Linked DNA regions of Homo sapiens: regions 2 and 3 are each linked to region 1. Evidence: fine-mapped expression QTL. A gene starts in region 1. Each other region holds a variant in brackets. All regions are shown on one strand. Distances are from middle to middle.

Region 1 (5,226 bases):
CACACAGCATGAAGCCAGGATTCAAGCCCTGTCCCACACTGTGCTCCTTGCAGAACATCTCCACCTCAAGGTTTTTCATCCACCTCTAACCTACCATGCCCCAAATGGAATTCACAATCCAAATGGAATCCTTTCCCCCAAACTGTTCTCCTTGTATTTCCAGGGGAAGATCCAGGCTTGGTGGAGCCTGAGGATTCTATAATTGGCCAGGAAGGGGCTCTTTAGGAAAAAATAAATAAAAAGAAAACAATGAATACAAGAGTAGGTTTAGGACCTTGATAGTGGATGTGAAAGGGAGGGATTCTCGCACATAACCTTCATTAGCTTCATGGTGAACCCCACCCCATACATTTTGTATTCCAGTGGCTAGCATCTAGTCATTCCAGCAGGGGCATGGAAAATTCTTCTCTTTATATTCCCTCCCTCTTCCCTTCTTCATCCATATGGAACCATGGATAGCACTCTAGTTCTACCTTCCTCAAGTCTCTAGAATCCCTCTTTACCTTTTCACGTACACTATCCTGATTAGCTCAGGTCCTCAACATCCCACACTCGGACCATAGCCATAGTCCACTCTGTCTATTCCTGCCACTTCCTGGACTTTCCCCAACACAGTTCCTGTGCTTAGCAGGGTGACCATCAGAAACATGCATCTCATCAACCCTTCTGTGATGGTCCATTTTCCTCTGACTAGCATCTACATTCCTTAGCCCAGCAGTACCCAGCACAGGTCAATCTTGCCAGCTTTACTTTTCCCTGTGCTCTCCTTTTGTTCCTTTCTTCAACAAATAATTATTGAGGACCTATTCTTGAGTACTATTATGAAGTGCCAATAGTAGGGTAATTGAATGCTAAACACTGAATATGCAGTAGCAATCAAGACCAGATCTTTCACACCTCTTGTCCCATCACACCAAATAGCTTGCAGTTTTTAGACTCTAAGACTGTGTTCAGCTTCTTTCCCTTTTCCTAGGCTGCAGGGAAGCTTTTAAATTCATTGATTACCTGAATAATAACCACTTATCCTTCGTGGATCAGATACAGTGTTATCTCCCATATAGAGCATTTTCTGATCACCCTCCAGCAGCAAAAATGGATCCCTTCCTCATTTCTATCCCAAATGTGCTTTTGAGATCTGATATTCCCTCAGAACACCTAATATACTTTGATGCAACTACTTGACTATTGAGAAGGTCTCCCTCATTTCAAAGCAAACATTTGGATCAAAGAGACATCATTTTATTCATCTCTACATCCTCACTGGAACCTGCCATATAGTAGACACCATACATTCATACATACGTACATTCACCAACTCATTCATCTTCATCCATCCATCCATCTACCCATCCATCCATTCATCTATCTACTCACTAATCCATCTACCTACTCACCCATCCAACCATCCATCTACTCTTTCATCCATCTACCTACCCACTTGTCCATTTAACCATCTACTCATCCATCTACCCACCCACCTGTCCATCCATCTACCATTTTATTCATTTACCTACCCATCCGTCCATCCATCCATCTACTCATCCATCTACCCATCCACCTGTCCATCTACCCACTCACTCATCCGTCTACTCACCCACCTGTTTATCCATCCATCTACCCACCCACCTATCCATCCAACAAATATTTCTGAATGTCCTCAATGTCCCAGCCATTTCTCCAGACTCTTTGGATATAGAGAAGAACAAGAAAGAAGAGGCCTCTGCTCTCACTAGCCCTACATTCTAGTGTCTGTTGCAGGGTCAGTGAGGGGTGGGTAGGGGGTCACAGACTACGGAAATAAACAAAGTAGGTGAGTGAGAAGTACTGTAAAGTAAATTAACAGAGCAATATCCCAGAGGGTACTACTTTAAAAGGAATGGTCAGGTCACCTTACAAGAAGGTGGCCTTTGTGATGAGTCCCAAATGATAAGAAAGGAAGCAGCCAAACAAAGAGAGACAGAAAGTCCTGATGTGGGAATGAGCTTTGTGTGTTTGAGGAACAGAAAAGAACAGAGTAAGCAGAGGAGAGGACAGAGATGAAGGCAGGGAAGTTAGGGAAAGTGTAAGAACTTGGAAAATACAGGAAACTCAGCAACAGCCAGACCTGATTTTGAATCCTTTCTCTAGCATTCATCTCTACACGTATGACCTTAACCAAGTCACCGCACCTTTCTTAGCCCCCATTTCCCCATCATGGAATGGGGACACAAGTACCTATGTCATTGGGCTTAGGGGAGAAAGTTCGGTAAAATGTCTGACACATGATAGATTTTGACAAACATTATTTCCTCTTCTTTTCTTGCTTTAAACATATAATGATGCTGTTACCTTAAAAGTTAGGTTATGCCATTAGAAGGCGCCTTTGTTCTTTGCTCTTGTTCTACCAAAATGAGAAAATGGCAAAAATCGCAGGGTGGGTCTCAGTTCTCCATTTTGTTAATATCCAAGTTGATATTTCCCTTTTGCGACAGTAACAACAACATGCAAACCAAAAACTGAAACAGCTTCAGTTCTGTGCCCTCAGGATCCAGCGTGGGACTCGTGAGAACCCTCCAGAGACAGCCACATTTCGAAGCAAGTGGCACAGGCTTTGCAGAAGGCACACTGGGCCCCTCTCAAAACTCAAGCAGCAAAGATGATGAGAGAGCTGCAGACTTCGGGGCGTGGAGGATGGGACTAAGCCGCAGAGTGCCTTGTCTAACATGTTTTAGGAAGCACCCTTCTCTTTCCCGACTCACATGGGGCAGCTATAATAATTCAGCTTCACGTGGCTGAATTATTTTCTGTTTTCACTTGGTTCTTTTTTTCTTCTCCTTTAAGAAAAAAAAAGTCCAAATAGGCTTTGGGCCACACTGGACTACCTAGTAAGGGGGATAGATGATCTAGATGATTTGAGAGCTGGTTTTCTGAAAAGCCAGGGAGCTCTGGTCTTGAGAAGACTCAGTAGCCAGGAAGCTGAGGAACACACACACACACACACACACACACACACACACACACAAACACACCCCTTCCTGGCTCCAGTTCCGCACCACCCCACACCCCCAACACCGGAAGTAGATTTCTCAATAGGCAGGGCTGGGTATGAGTCACAGGCAATTCCGTTTTGTTTGGGACCATGAGACCTCCCACTCCTGGGGCCAGAAGGAGTTGCTGAGAAGGAGCTGTGGTTCTGACCTTCAGGGGAATTCCCACGTCTGTATGGTGGCTCGTGAAGAGCATGGTTCCTTTTCTCAGCCCTCTTGAGGGGCGAGGATGCTGAGGACTGAAGTCGGTGGGGCTTGATGCATGTGGTGTGTGGATGGTGTGGGGAGGTGGGGAAGGAGGACTAACATGAATGGTGTGAGGTCTTTCAGAGGGGTCTTCCCAAGGTCACATAGTTGACGGGGGGTGAGTACTCACACTCGTGCAAAGGTGGGGGATAGGAAGGGAAACTGAGGCCATTAGTATTTGGCACCATAGCTGGTCTCTGAGGCTTTCAAATGTTCCCCCAGGAGGTTCAGCCTCTGTGGGGAGAAGCCAGGGGAACCCCATGGCACATCCCCAGCCCTGCCTGCTACCCGCCTCTGCCATCTCCCCTTCCCCTGGGCTATGAGGGGAGGTAATGAGACCTGTGACTCATACAGTGCTCTCCTTTTCCCTCCTATCAGCTCAGACTAAGCAGAGAAGTGGGCAGAGCTCTTTCACCAGAGGTGGAGGGGCCTGTTGGGGAGGGGACCCACCAAATCCTTGGGGGTGGTTCTCAGCTCCCCGGAGATAGGGGAGATGAGACCTCAGGAAGGCTCTGATCAGGCGTCTTCTGTTCTCTTTCCTTTCTTGGGTGGGAATGATGCTTCCCACTTTTGTGGTCCACCTGCAGGCCGCCTTTCATCCTTCTTCAAGTCACAGAGAGACAGAGAGGAGGGGACGAAGGACGAGCCATGGGGTTTTGAAAGCAGGCACAGCAGCAGGGGTGCTGCCTCCAGGGGTCTGCTCTGCCAAGAGTTCCTGTCCCAGGTGTCTACAAAAACAGTCAAACTCTATAAAATACTTGGAGATTTATTCTGAGCCAAATATGAGTGACCAATAGCCCGTGACACAGACCTCAGGAGATCCTGCCCAAGGTGGTCAGGTTACAGTTTGGTTTTATATATATTAGGGAGATACAAGAAATAAATCAATACATAGAAAATGTACGTTGGTTTGGTCCGGGAAGGCAGGACAACTCAAAGCAGAGGCTTCAAGTCATAGATACATTCAAAGATTTTCTGATTGACAATTGGTTGAAAAAGTTGTATTATCATCTAAAGACCTAGAATCAACAGAAGAGAATGTCTGGGTTAAGATGAGAGGTTGTGGAGACCAGGGTTCCCATTATGCAGAGGAAGCCCCAGGTAGCAGGCTTCAGAGAGAATAGGTTGTAAATGTTTCTTATCAGAATTAATTCTCTCCTGGAGCACGAAAAGGAAGGGGATTCTCTTCGAAATATAGATTTTCCCCACAAGAGACAGCTTTGCAGGACTATTTTGAGATACAGCAAATAAACATAACTTGGGGCAAAATACTTTGATTTTTTTTTTTCAGGGCCTGCTCTCTGTCATGTGATGCTATACTACAGCCAGGCTGGAATTTGGTGTCTTATTGCTACAAAGAATCAGCTTTGTCAATCCTAAGGTCTGTTTTAATGTTAATGCTGGTCAGTTGTGCCTGAGTTCCAAAAGGGAGCAGGAAATAATGAGGCACGTTCGACCCTCCCTTCCCACCACGGTTTGCACTAGTTTTTCAGGTTAACTTTGGAAGGCTATTGGCCGAGGCGAGGGGTCCATTCAGATGGTTGGGGGACTTAGAATTTTATTTTTGGTTTACACAGGTCACTGAGAGGCTGCCAGAGGGCCATTTTCATGACCAGAGGGATCTGTTCAACACCCTGTGGGTCCCAGCACCTATCTCAGGAAGCAGGGTGCATCTGTCCACCACCAAGTCTCAGGGTGGCTGGGTGAGCGCTCATCAGTCCCAGACAGCAGGTTGGCACAAAACGACACTGCCCACAAAACCACAGGAAGAAGAGAAACTCCGACTGTCTTTCAGCACACAGAAGACACTGTACTGGACCCGGACATTAGGCAGACACCCACGCCTGACTTTCAGGAGAAAAGAGAACATGACTAACGGATATTCTTAGTAGATGGTTTATTAGAAAAGAGAACATCTTCCAGCATGTGTCCTGGGGTGATGGGTGTGGGAAGC
Region 2 (5,226 bases), 48 kb after region 1:
TAACTTCTGGAAGTTTCTGAGTATTCATGACTTATTCTTTTTTTTTTTTTTTTTTTTTTTTTTTTGAGACAGAGTCTTGCTCTGTTACCCAGGCTGGAGTGCCGTGGCGCGATCTCGGCTCACTGCAAGCTCCGCCTCCCGGGTTCACGCCATTCTTCTGCCTCAGCCTCCTGAGCAGCTGGGACTACAGGCGGCTACCACCACGCCCGGCTATGATTTTTTCTATTTTTTAGTAGAGACAGGGTTTCACCGTGTTAGCCAGGATGGTCTCGATCTCCTGACCTCGTGATCTGCCCACCTCGGCCTCCCAAAGTGCTGGGATTACAGGTGTGAGCCACCACGCCCGGCCGACTTTTTCTTGTTACTAACAATAGCTCTTTTTCCCTGATCCTCTCCCTCCTCCTACCTCCCGCCCTCCAATAGGCCTCAGTGTGTGTTGTTCCCCTCTTTGTGTCCATGTGTTTTCATCATTTAGCTCCCACTTATAAGTGAGAATATACAGTATTTAGTTTTGTGTCCCTGTGTTAGTTTGCTAAGGATAATATTTGGCCTCCAGCTCCATCCATGTCCCTGCAAAGGACATGATCTCCTTCCTTTTTATGGCTGCATAATATTCCATGACGTATACGTACCACATTTTCTTTAATAATGGGTACTAGACTTAATACCTGGGTGATGAAATAATCTGCACAACAAACTCCCTTGACACAAGTGTACCTATGTAACAAACCTGAACGTGTACCCTGCAACTTAAAATGAAAGTTAAGAAAAAAACACACACACAAAACAAACAAAAAAAACTATAGTTGCCATTTTAAACACCTATGATGTGTCAAACATTCCTTCAGCCCTCCCAACTATCCAGAAAGAGTCCTTCTTTTATAGATGAAAAAACTAAGAATCAAAGAGATGAAATCGGGCAGAGTAGAGACAGGATTCAAACCCAAGATCTGCATCTTGGACTCACAACACTGGAAGAAACTTCAGACACCAGCCTAACTTCACACCCAGCTCAGGACTGGCCCTGCCGAATGGTCACTCACCTGCTCTGAAAATCCTCGCGACAGGACGCTCACTTCCTACACCGGTAGTTCTCTGGCTCGAGGTGTGCCACAGAATCCCCTACGCATTGTTAGAACACAGAACATTGCTACCCCCACCCCGTGCAGGGCTTCTGGCGTGGTGGGGCTGGGACAGGGGCCTGAGAGTGTGCATTTCTCACAAGCTGCCACAGGATCCTGATGCTGCTGGCCCAGGGACCACACTTGGACAGTCATCGTTCTAGGAAAACTTCCTGGAGTGGGAATGGTAAAGGTGATGGCTTCTTCCCATTTTGCCCTTTTCAAATCTGAGATAGGCTTCCCCAGCAGGCTCAGTGCCAGAGTCCATACCCTCAATTTAAATAACAAATCCTCCTCTATATCATGACCTTTCCTCCAGAGGGTTGTTTTTCATTTTTTGTTTTTTGTTTTTTTTTTGAGACGGAGTCTTGTTCTATCACCAGGCTGGAGTGCAGTGGCACAATCTCGGCTCACTGCAAGCTCCGAACCCCGGGTTCACGCCATTCTCCTGCCTCAGCCTCCTGAGTAGCTGGGACCACAGGTGCCCACCACCACGCCTGGCTAATTTTTTGTATTTTTAGTAGAGACGGGGTTTCACCATGTTAGCCAGGATGGTCTTGATCTCCTGACCTCGTGATCCACCAGCCTCGGCCTCCCAAAGTGCTGGGATTACAGGAGTGAGCCACCGCGCCCGGCCCAGAGGGGTTTTTAAGATTGTGTGTTCTGAATGGCCTGTCTCTGACTGGAACCCAACTCCGTCCCCAGACCCACTTCCATCTTTTTCTGTGAGGGGGACACACTCTTTCAACTTTTCCAAAATGGCATCTACCATGGCTTTTCTGATTAAAAGCAAACGAAACACACCCTTCCTATAATCAAAAATTTAGAAAAGCAGCAAAAATAAAAAGGGGATAAGGAAGAAAACAGAAATTAACCACCATCCCACCGCTAAAATTTTGATGAGTTCTCATGTGTTTCCTTGCAGCTGATTGTTGTTTGGCATACATTTATTAATATTGGAATTAAAAATATATATGGCACTTTATATCCTAGAAAATAGTAATACTGTAAATGTGTTCTAGAAATGGGAGCTGCTGTTGCTCTTATTAGAGAATTCAAACAAAGAAGGGAGGCTCGCTGGGGACAGCTTCTGGGGGAGGATGGGTACCGCTTTGAGACAACAGGGAGAACTCAGGCACAGAGGTGACGATCATCGTTCTCTGTGGGGCACATAGTGATGCAGCCGGAAACAGGTATGAGTCAGTTGAGTGGGGACAGGTAATAGAGAGCTAGAACTGGCTGGCCTTATGGCCTCCAAGGCATTGGGGAGCCACTGTACATTCTTGAGCAGGCAATGACTTCACAAAAGGATTTCTCAAAGGTTAGTCCTGCAACAGAAGACAGCGTGGATTGGACTGGAAGAGTGGGAGGGCAGGTGGAGAAGGCATTGTGCTGCAAGTGGGGAGCAGCCCTGGGGGCCCAGCCAGTCCCCTGTGCCCTGACAAGTGGTATGGCATGGATGGATGGCTCTACTTCTGGGCCGCCAGGATGGACAGGTACTGGTTGCTCTTCACCATGGCGATAATGAGGAGGCCACCGGTCAGCAGGAAGGTGGGCCAGAAGAGGGAGAAGAGGAGGGCCTGGGGCCCGTAGAGGCGCTGGAATAGGACGCTGGTTTCGTTCCCCCGAGGTGCGGAGAAGCAGTAGAAGACCTGCTGCTCTTGGAATTTGGCTCTGACCTTCTCCACGTCGGCCCGGGCCGTCTGGTAATTGTCCACGCTGCCTGGGATGTAGGAGCACTGTGGGGAGAAACAAGAGCAGCTGTGGGCTTGGAAATCCCCATTTCTTAGCCAAGGGCTTGATATGGAGTAAAGAAAAATACCAGCTTTGTAGTCGGGCCCCTGGATTGGAGTCGGGGCTTTGGTCTAAAGCTTGGCAGGCCATGCGCTGTACAGGTCTGGAGAGCA[C/T]GCTCTCATTTGTGTCTTGTGTGTGGATGGCGGTGCTGGAGCTGCTCGGGGTACAGGCTACACACCTGGGCGCAGGTCCTACCTTGGAGTCCTGGCTCTGCTTGGATTGGCTGTAGAATTTTTGGCAAATTTCTCACTCTTTCTGAGCCCTGAAGCTTCATCACTTAAATGGGTGAATATCGGTTTCAAAGGATATTATGAAAGAAGGACTTCACACAGAGCTATCTAAGGAAACCAGGGAGGGACACAGGCCAAGTGGGCTGTGTATTTGAAATCGAGATCATGTGCTCAATTGCCTACAGGGCTCATGAAGGTATTGTCAGAGGGTGAAGCAGGCAAAGCAATGAGATGACAGGTGCCCACTGACTCTTGCCTTGGTGCCAGGAAGAATTGCCAGGGTGTGGCAGGGCCTGTCAATAGGGAGAGAGCCAGCTGCCTCCAGACAGGCAGTCACCACTCCCTCCAGGCAATGGATGTCAGGCCATCCAGAAGATCTATAATAGCCAGACCTCCAACACTTTAAGAGAAGTTAGAAACCAGATCACACCTGTAATCCTAACACTTTGGGAAGCCGAAGGGGAAGGATCCCTTGAGCCCAGGAGTTCGAGACTAGCCTAGGCAACATAGCAAGACTTTATCTCTACAAAAAAAGTTAAAAATTATCCAGGTGGGCATGGTGGTGTACCTGTAGTCCCAGCTACACAGGAGACTGAGGTGGGAGGATCACCTGAGCCCAGGAGTTGGAGGCTGCAGTGAGCTATGATCTCGCAACTACACTCCAGGTAAGGCAACAAAGCGAGATCCCATTTCAAAAAAAAAAAAAAAGTAAAATATTAGCTAAATTTAAAATTGAAAACCTTTGCAGTTTCAACCTGTGTACAGCAAACAAACTATGTTGGCAAGCGGGTATTTGACACTGGGATCCAAAGGAAAGAAAGAATGCATTGAAAAGAGTTTTGTGCCAGCAGAGCATGACACACATTTAATTCTGACGTTGATTATTGTTATTAGGAACTTTCTGCCCTGTTCAGATGAGGCCAGCTGGAAAGTGATGCAAAGCAGTCATAAAGCGGAGTTTTATCTGGTTTTATCTCTGTTCTGAGCTGCAAGTGTGGTGCCCCCATCTGCAGCAGAATACCTACAGGGCCCCCATAGCCCAGGTCCCTACCCACTCTGCATCACTGAGGGCGAGACCCAGGAATGTGTGATTCCTTCATGCACTTAATTTTGCCCTAGTGAAATCATGTGCAAGATCAAAATGTGTAAAACTGAGACCCAAATGGCAGGTGTTGAGCCAGATTCCTTGCAGGCCTCGGCCACTCCCTGGATTTATATGAGGTGCCACCCTGGAAGCTGCCTGCCCTGAGGGCATTCACTCCAGCAACACAGAGGAGGGTTGCACTGTAGTTCTCACAGCCTGGGAAATGCAGATGCTGCACTCAGATCTAGGGCCCCAGCCAGCCAGGGAGTAGCTGAGGCTGGGGAGACGCTGGCTCCTCAGGAATCTGGCATTCAGAGCTGTTGGACACTGCCAGGTCCTCAGTAGCATATAATCCAGCATCCTGAGCTGACGGTGAGGGGGCCTGGCCTGAGTCTCTCCAATGCCTCTGACTGTGACCTTGGCTAACCTAGCTCCTTAAATAGCAGTGTGGCTATGGAGTCAGACAGGCCTGAGTTCTGAGCTGTGTGACCTTGGCAACTGCCACAACCTCACTGGGCCTTGTAAAATGGGTTTGTGAGGCTACCTGCCTAGGAGAACTGTCATGGGGATTAAATGAGATGATGCATGTAAAGCACTGAGCACAGAAGCCCAGCACACGATAAGAACTCAAAAAAGTGGAAGATGCTATTATTAATAATAATATGTTTTGACTTATCTATGAAATTGCAACAACAGCTCCTTCTTTACCTTCTTAAAAAGAGGTCTATGGATGAGCTCTGAAGTAGAGGCTTCTGTCCATCCTGGGCCTAGTGTATCCTCTGCCTGCTCAGGGTTCCTCTGGATCTTTTATGCTGGGCCTGTTTGGCAAGACACTGGGCAGGAATTCACTCTTCATGGCCAAACCCAGAAGCCGGGGCCTGAATGCATCCTTTCTCTCCTGTCCTGGGTCCAGCTAAGCCTGAGTTATCTGAATGATCTGAAACCAACCAGCTTTTTCCCAAGCCCTGCAGTGTAAGGTCCCCAGGACAGACAATGG
Region 3 (5,226 bases), 11 kb after region 1:
TGCCTGTGACTCCTGAAAACATTTCCCAAAATTCACTGAGACCTCCCATCACTGGGAGGGAGAGCTGCCTCTGCCAAGCCCCCTGACCCACATCCTCTCTGGGGCAGAAGGGAAACCTCACCTGGCCAGGTGGGCTGATGGTAGAAGTGGGAGCTTGAGCTCCCTCTAGTGAGGCAGTGGGGGCAGCACAGAAAACACCTCCAACCTAGGCACAGGGTGACCTCTGCAGGACTTTCTCCCCATCAAGAAAGAGGAAGTGGCATTGAGTGAGTCCTGGTCAAAAATAGTCCATTTCTGTGGGTCCCAAGGGCAGTCCCGGCTCCCCAGCAGAGATCTTTTGAAATGCTCACTCTTCTGAGGTCCTTGGCTCTGAACCCAAAATTCCCCCATCTGTACACATGCAGATCTCTGGGGTCTGGGCGCATGTGATCCCCCGCAGACCTCCCTGCTGGAGGTAGCCTCCTTCCCATCCTTTCTCTGCCAGACCAAGCACACACTCTGCTCCCCTTGCTGGGCCTTGGGTTGGGTTTGTCCCAGCTCCTGCCCTGGTTGGGGGTGAGGGGTAGGTCATGACAGAGATGGAGCCCCATTTTCAGACTTAGCTTAGCCTCCTGGAAATCACCCTAAAGTATTTTTGGAGCTATTTAGCATCCTAAAGATCAGAAAACTATTGCAACCAGATGCTTGAGCTCTGCTGAGTCAGCAAAGATGCCCACAGCAGTGGGGAGCAGACCCTGGCCTGTGTCACTGTGAGTGAGCAGTGTGACTTCTCAGGGCTGCAGTCTCCTTGTCGGAAAATGGAAACTAAAATTGCTGGGATTAAAAGGGAGGAAAATATGGGAAAGCACTTTGGACAGTATAGTGTGCAAGTTGATGTTAGTATCTATTATTTTTAAAATCCGGAAGTCAGCTAAGATGCCTTATCCTATAAAACTCAAGTGGATTTTGCCAGAATGTCCTCACACCAAATAGTGGACCCCTTCTTTTGCTGATTTATCTGCTATTGTATAGGTGTATGTGTGTGTGGGTGTGTGTGTGTGTGTGTGTGTTAAGGCAGGTGGTAGTATGTGTAGGGTAGGGTTTCCCCAGTCACCTGGAGCCCTGAGTGCCTGCTTCCCTAAACTAGGCCAGTTTAGCTGACTGGCTTCCTTTGTGTATTGGTCCATTCTGCATCAAAAGCATCTGAATTTTCATTCAATCTCTCTTCTGAATTTTCACTTTTAAAAACCTGACCAGTCCCTTGTGTGTAACTGACTTCACAGGAGGTCTGAGGAGACAAAGGGGGTTGCTTCGTAGCCACACAAACAACTTCAAGTCAAATAATAGACCTGCAAATTGCTAAAAAGCCCTTTGGCTCTTTTCAATAACTGGAGGCCAGCCTCCCTCTCCTCTTTCTAAGCCCTCTTCATCTTTCTGTGTCCTCCGACAGCTGTTGTTTATCAAGGTGACCAGCATGATCCATCCCTCAACAAACAAAATTCCTTCCAGAAGAGGAAGGCAGGTGCCAGCTGTTGAGATAGTAATTTCTTTGTCCTGACAACATTTTTGTTTATCTCCGGACCTTCCATCCATATGGGTAAGAGACAGGAAAGAGCGAGAACTGGAAGGGACAGACACCACTGCAGAGGGTCCCGTGGGGGGCTTTAGAGAGGGGCTCCAATGCCTCTCATTGTTCTACCTCCCAGCCATTTTGTTGTTGTTGTTTTGAGACAGAGTTTTTGCTCTGTTGCTTAGGCTGGAGTACAGTAGCACGATCGCGGCTCACTGCCACCTCTGCCTCCTGGGTTCAAGTGATTCTCCTGCCTCAGCTTCCCAAGTAACTGGGATTACAGGCACCCACCACCATGCCCGGCTAATTTTTGTATTTTTAGTAGAGACAGGGTTTCACCATGTTGGCCAGGCTAGTCTCAAACTCTTGACCTCAGGTGATCCATCCGCCTCTGCCTCCCAAAGTGCTAGGATTACAGGCGTGAGCCACCACACCCGGCCCCTCGCAGCCATTTTGAAGGCCTGAGCTCCCTGATGGAAGGCATGGAGCCAAGCTCAAGCATTTTTCCACTGACATGGCAGGATCTTAATAGAGGTTTGTCCTGTGATTAAGTCCTTTATTGACGCTTTGGAGACACACAACCCATACCCTTCCCAACCTGAGCTGAAGCCACAGATGCAAAGGAGCCTGGGAACTCCTCAAGTCCACTTGTGTCCAGTCCTCTGCCCTCCTGCAGGGAAGCTCTGTAGTCCAAGGACATCCAACTCCCAGACTCACTTCCAGGGACAGAGATACGAGGATCTTGGGAGTAGAGCTGTGGGCAAGAATGCCAGACTCCTGGTGATTCTGGGATATAA[C/A]CCCTTGGAGGGGATTGTCACGGGTCTGTGTTCCTTCATGCCTCTAGTAGGATTCATGATCATCTTTATGACAATAGTGACAATAATGACAGCTACCATGGTCCAAGCCCTTATTACATGGTGGGTCCTTACACACATTTCTCATTAACTACATCATATGATGTAGGTAACTTTAGTATTCCCATTTTACAGATGGGGAAACTGAGGCTTATGAGGTTCAGTTTGTGTAAAATCACATAGCTGGAAGGTATGGAAACTGGGCTCTTCACCACCACAAGGCACCGCCTCTCACTCAGTATGCCACTGCATGCCCATGCAACAATTTACGATTAGGAATGAAATTCTCATACAGTCATGCATCACTTAACAGCAGGGATGCGTTCTCAGAAATGTGTCCTTAGGTGAATCCACTGTTGTGTGAACATCACAGAGTGCACGTATGCACACCTAGATGGCATATTCGACAACACACCTGGGCTCTCTGGTACAGCCTGTTGCTCCTGCGCTACAAACCTGCACAGCATGGGACTGTCCTGAATACTGCAGATGGCTGTAACACAACGGTGAGTATTCGTCTATCTAAACACAGCCAAACATAGAGAAGGTAGAGTGAAAATACAGTAGTATAGTCTTATTGCACCACCTTCGGATATGAGGTCAAGTGTTGACTGAAATGTCATTATATGGTGGGAGACCGTACATTACTTCATTTACACTTCACCTGGATATATACAACCTGGAAGCTCTTTTTCCAACCATATCACAGACAAAGAAATTGAGGCTTGTACAGGTGAAGGGGCCTGCCTTTCCTTTGCTCACAGGAATGTGAGGATGATACAAAAGTGAAGGATATTGGCATTCTTCAGGCAGGGAGATAACCTGGACAGGGGTGGTGCAGCAGGCATGTGCATAAAAGGAGCAAGAGAAGCCTTCTCTGTCGTGAGCAAGCTTGCAGGCCAGATGGAGAAAAATGAAGTAAAGTCACCCCAAAGCCTGGATTCTCATCTGGAGTGCCTCTTGCCTCTTGCCCTTCCCAGAACGCTCCAGCTTGGCACTGGGCTGGAATTCCACTAAGAATTGAGTTGATTTCGTCATCTGAGGCCCTGGGCACAATGACAAGGGTGGTTTTCTCGGATCTGCAGTGAGCATTACACCAGAGTGTGGGAAACAGTGCCTACTCAGGGACCCCACTCTGGGACCCAGGGCAAACTTGCCATCGTCTCCAGTCAGCTCATTAGCCGCCCAGGACTCTGCCAGCCCATCCAGGCAGTGATGTAATTACCAAAATGGAGATGAATATTTAAAGGGACTCTTACTTAACCGATATACTTCCTCTCCAAGTTCCCTCCTTCACCGGCTCTGGATGAATTTCTGGAGGGATTGCTCTGACATAGGCCCAGAGCTACCTGTGGTTTGACCTCATCATGAGGCCTTTCTTCACCCTTTCTTGGTGGCTTGCCTTGAGGGTGTTAGGAGATGGTCCATTGTCTGACTGTGAACAGCAGGGCAGCTCTTATATTCTCCATCAATGGATCTCTGGGGACAAGACCCAGATGGGTGGGGGGACAGGGGAAGGAAACATAAAAGCCAAAGGGACTGGATACCTGTAACTAATTACCCCTTTACTGTTTCTGTCACCAGACCTTAGTGCCACAAAGGATTGGGGGTCATTTGTGACAATGTATGTTGTAAAATGTAAAATGCAAGTGACCACAAATCTGAAAGCAGTATAGAGCTTTGGTTAAAATAATGCAGGCTCTCCACTGGCATTATTATTGTTGTTAGGAGAGTCTGGTGCTCTGTTCAAGGGCTTTTCTGTGCTATGGATTATCTCTGTTTAGCACAAAATATCTTGTGTCCCTGGAAACCCCTTAGTCCTGAGAAAACCAGGGCAGTTGGTCACCCCCCTGTTCAATGCAGGCATCAGTTCCACTAGGTAGGGGGTCTTAGCTGCATTTTAAAGATAAGGAAATAAAGACTTAATGGGTTGGAATAACTGGGTTATGTGCACATAGCTAAAGAATGGTTACACAAACAACTTCAAGTCAAATATTAGACCTGCGTATTCCTAAAATCCCTATGGCTGTTTGCAATAACTTGAGGCCAGCCTCCCTCTCCTCTTTTCTAAGCCCTCTTTACCTTTCTGTGTCCTCTGATGGCTGTTGTTTATCAAGGCAACCATCGTGATTCATACCTCAAAGCACGCTTTGAATTCTACTCCTATAGGCTCCAAAACCCTTATTATCCAGGTTCAGTATTGCTCTAAACTAGGTGAGGTCCTGAACAGACCCAGATTTCAAGCATATTCAGGTGGATTTGTTTAACAGAGTGTGGCTACTGGAACATCTGGAGCCCAAAGTACACAGGAGGCAGGAGAGAGCCTACTTTCCTGAAGAGAGGGACGGGCCAACTGTCCGACAATGAGGAGGTGGGCATTCTTTCCTTTGTAAAACAAAAAGTATCTGAGACAGGGGTCAGTCAATTCAGAAGCTTATTTTGCCAAACTTATGGACCATAACCCATGACACAGCCTCAAGAGGTCCTGAGAACATGTGCCCGAGGTGGCTGGGTTACATCTTGGTTTTACATGTTTGAGGGAGACTGAAGACATCAGTCAATACATGTGAGGCATACATTGGTTGGGTCCAGAAAGGCGGGACAACTTCAGAGGTGGGGAGTGGCTTTTAGGTCATGGGTGGATTCAAAGATTTTCTGGTTGGCAATTGGTTGAGAGTTAAGTTGTTATCCAAAGACTTGGAATCGATAGAAATGAGTGTCTGGGTTAAGATAAGGGGTTATAGAGACCAAGGTTCTTATTATGTAGATGAAGTCTCATTGGCGGCTGCCCCAAACGCAATAGATGACAAACGTTTCTTATTC

Direction of the effects. Alleles are on the strand shown, and positions count from the first base shown. SD is a standard deviation of normalised expression in the study named. Not every link is listed here.
For the expression in tibial artery of the gene that starts at base 3,109 in region 1, T is the high allele of the variant in region 2 and C is the other (large effect, 1.5 SD a copy in GTEx).

The links. PIP is the estimated chance that this variant, and not a neighbour inherited with it, causes the effect.
Region 2: its variant is the best candidate, but not a certain one, in a credible set for the expression of LINC01366 in tibial artery (GTEx, PIP 0.68).
Region 3: its variant is the best candidate, but not a certain one, in a credible set for the expression of LINC01366 in whole blood (TOPMed, PIP 0.81).

What each region holds. Positions count from the first base shown.
Region 1 is chr5:170,328,285-170,333,510 of GRCh38, forward strand. LINC01366 (long intergenic non-protein coding RNA 1366) reads left to right here and starts at 3,109. Exons shown (of 2, transcript NR_108025.1): 1 at 3,109-3,293; 2 at 4,850-5,226. RefSeq lists enhancers at 2,412-3,611, 3,176-3,345, 4,411-5,226, 5,177-5,226.
Region 2 is chr5:170,376,114-170,381,339 of GRCh38, forward strand. It overlaps KCNMB1 (potassium calcium-activated channel subfamily M regulatory beta subunit 1), which reads right to left. Exons shown (of 4, transcript NM_004137.4): 4 at 1-2,860. The coding sequence ends at 2,591. It also overlaps a transcript of KCNIP1 not described here. Among named protein-coding and RNA genes, the nearest start is that of KCNMB1, 11 kb to the right of the region's middle. The variant C/T (reference allele first, on the strand shown) is at 3,029.
Region 3 is chr5:170,338,887-170,344,112 of GRCh38, forward strand. No RefSeq gene overlaps it. Among named protein-coding and RNA genes, the nearest start is that of LINC01366, 10 kb to the left of the region's middle. RefSeq lists an enhancer at 333-542. The variant C/A (reference allele first, on the strand shown) is at 2,347.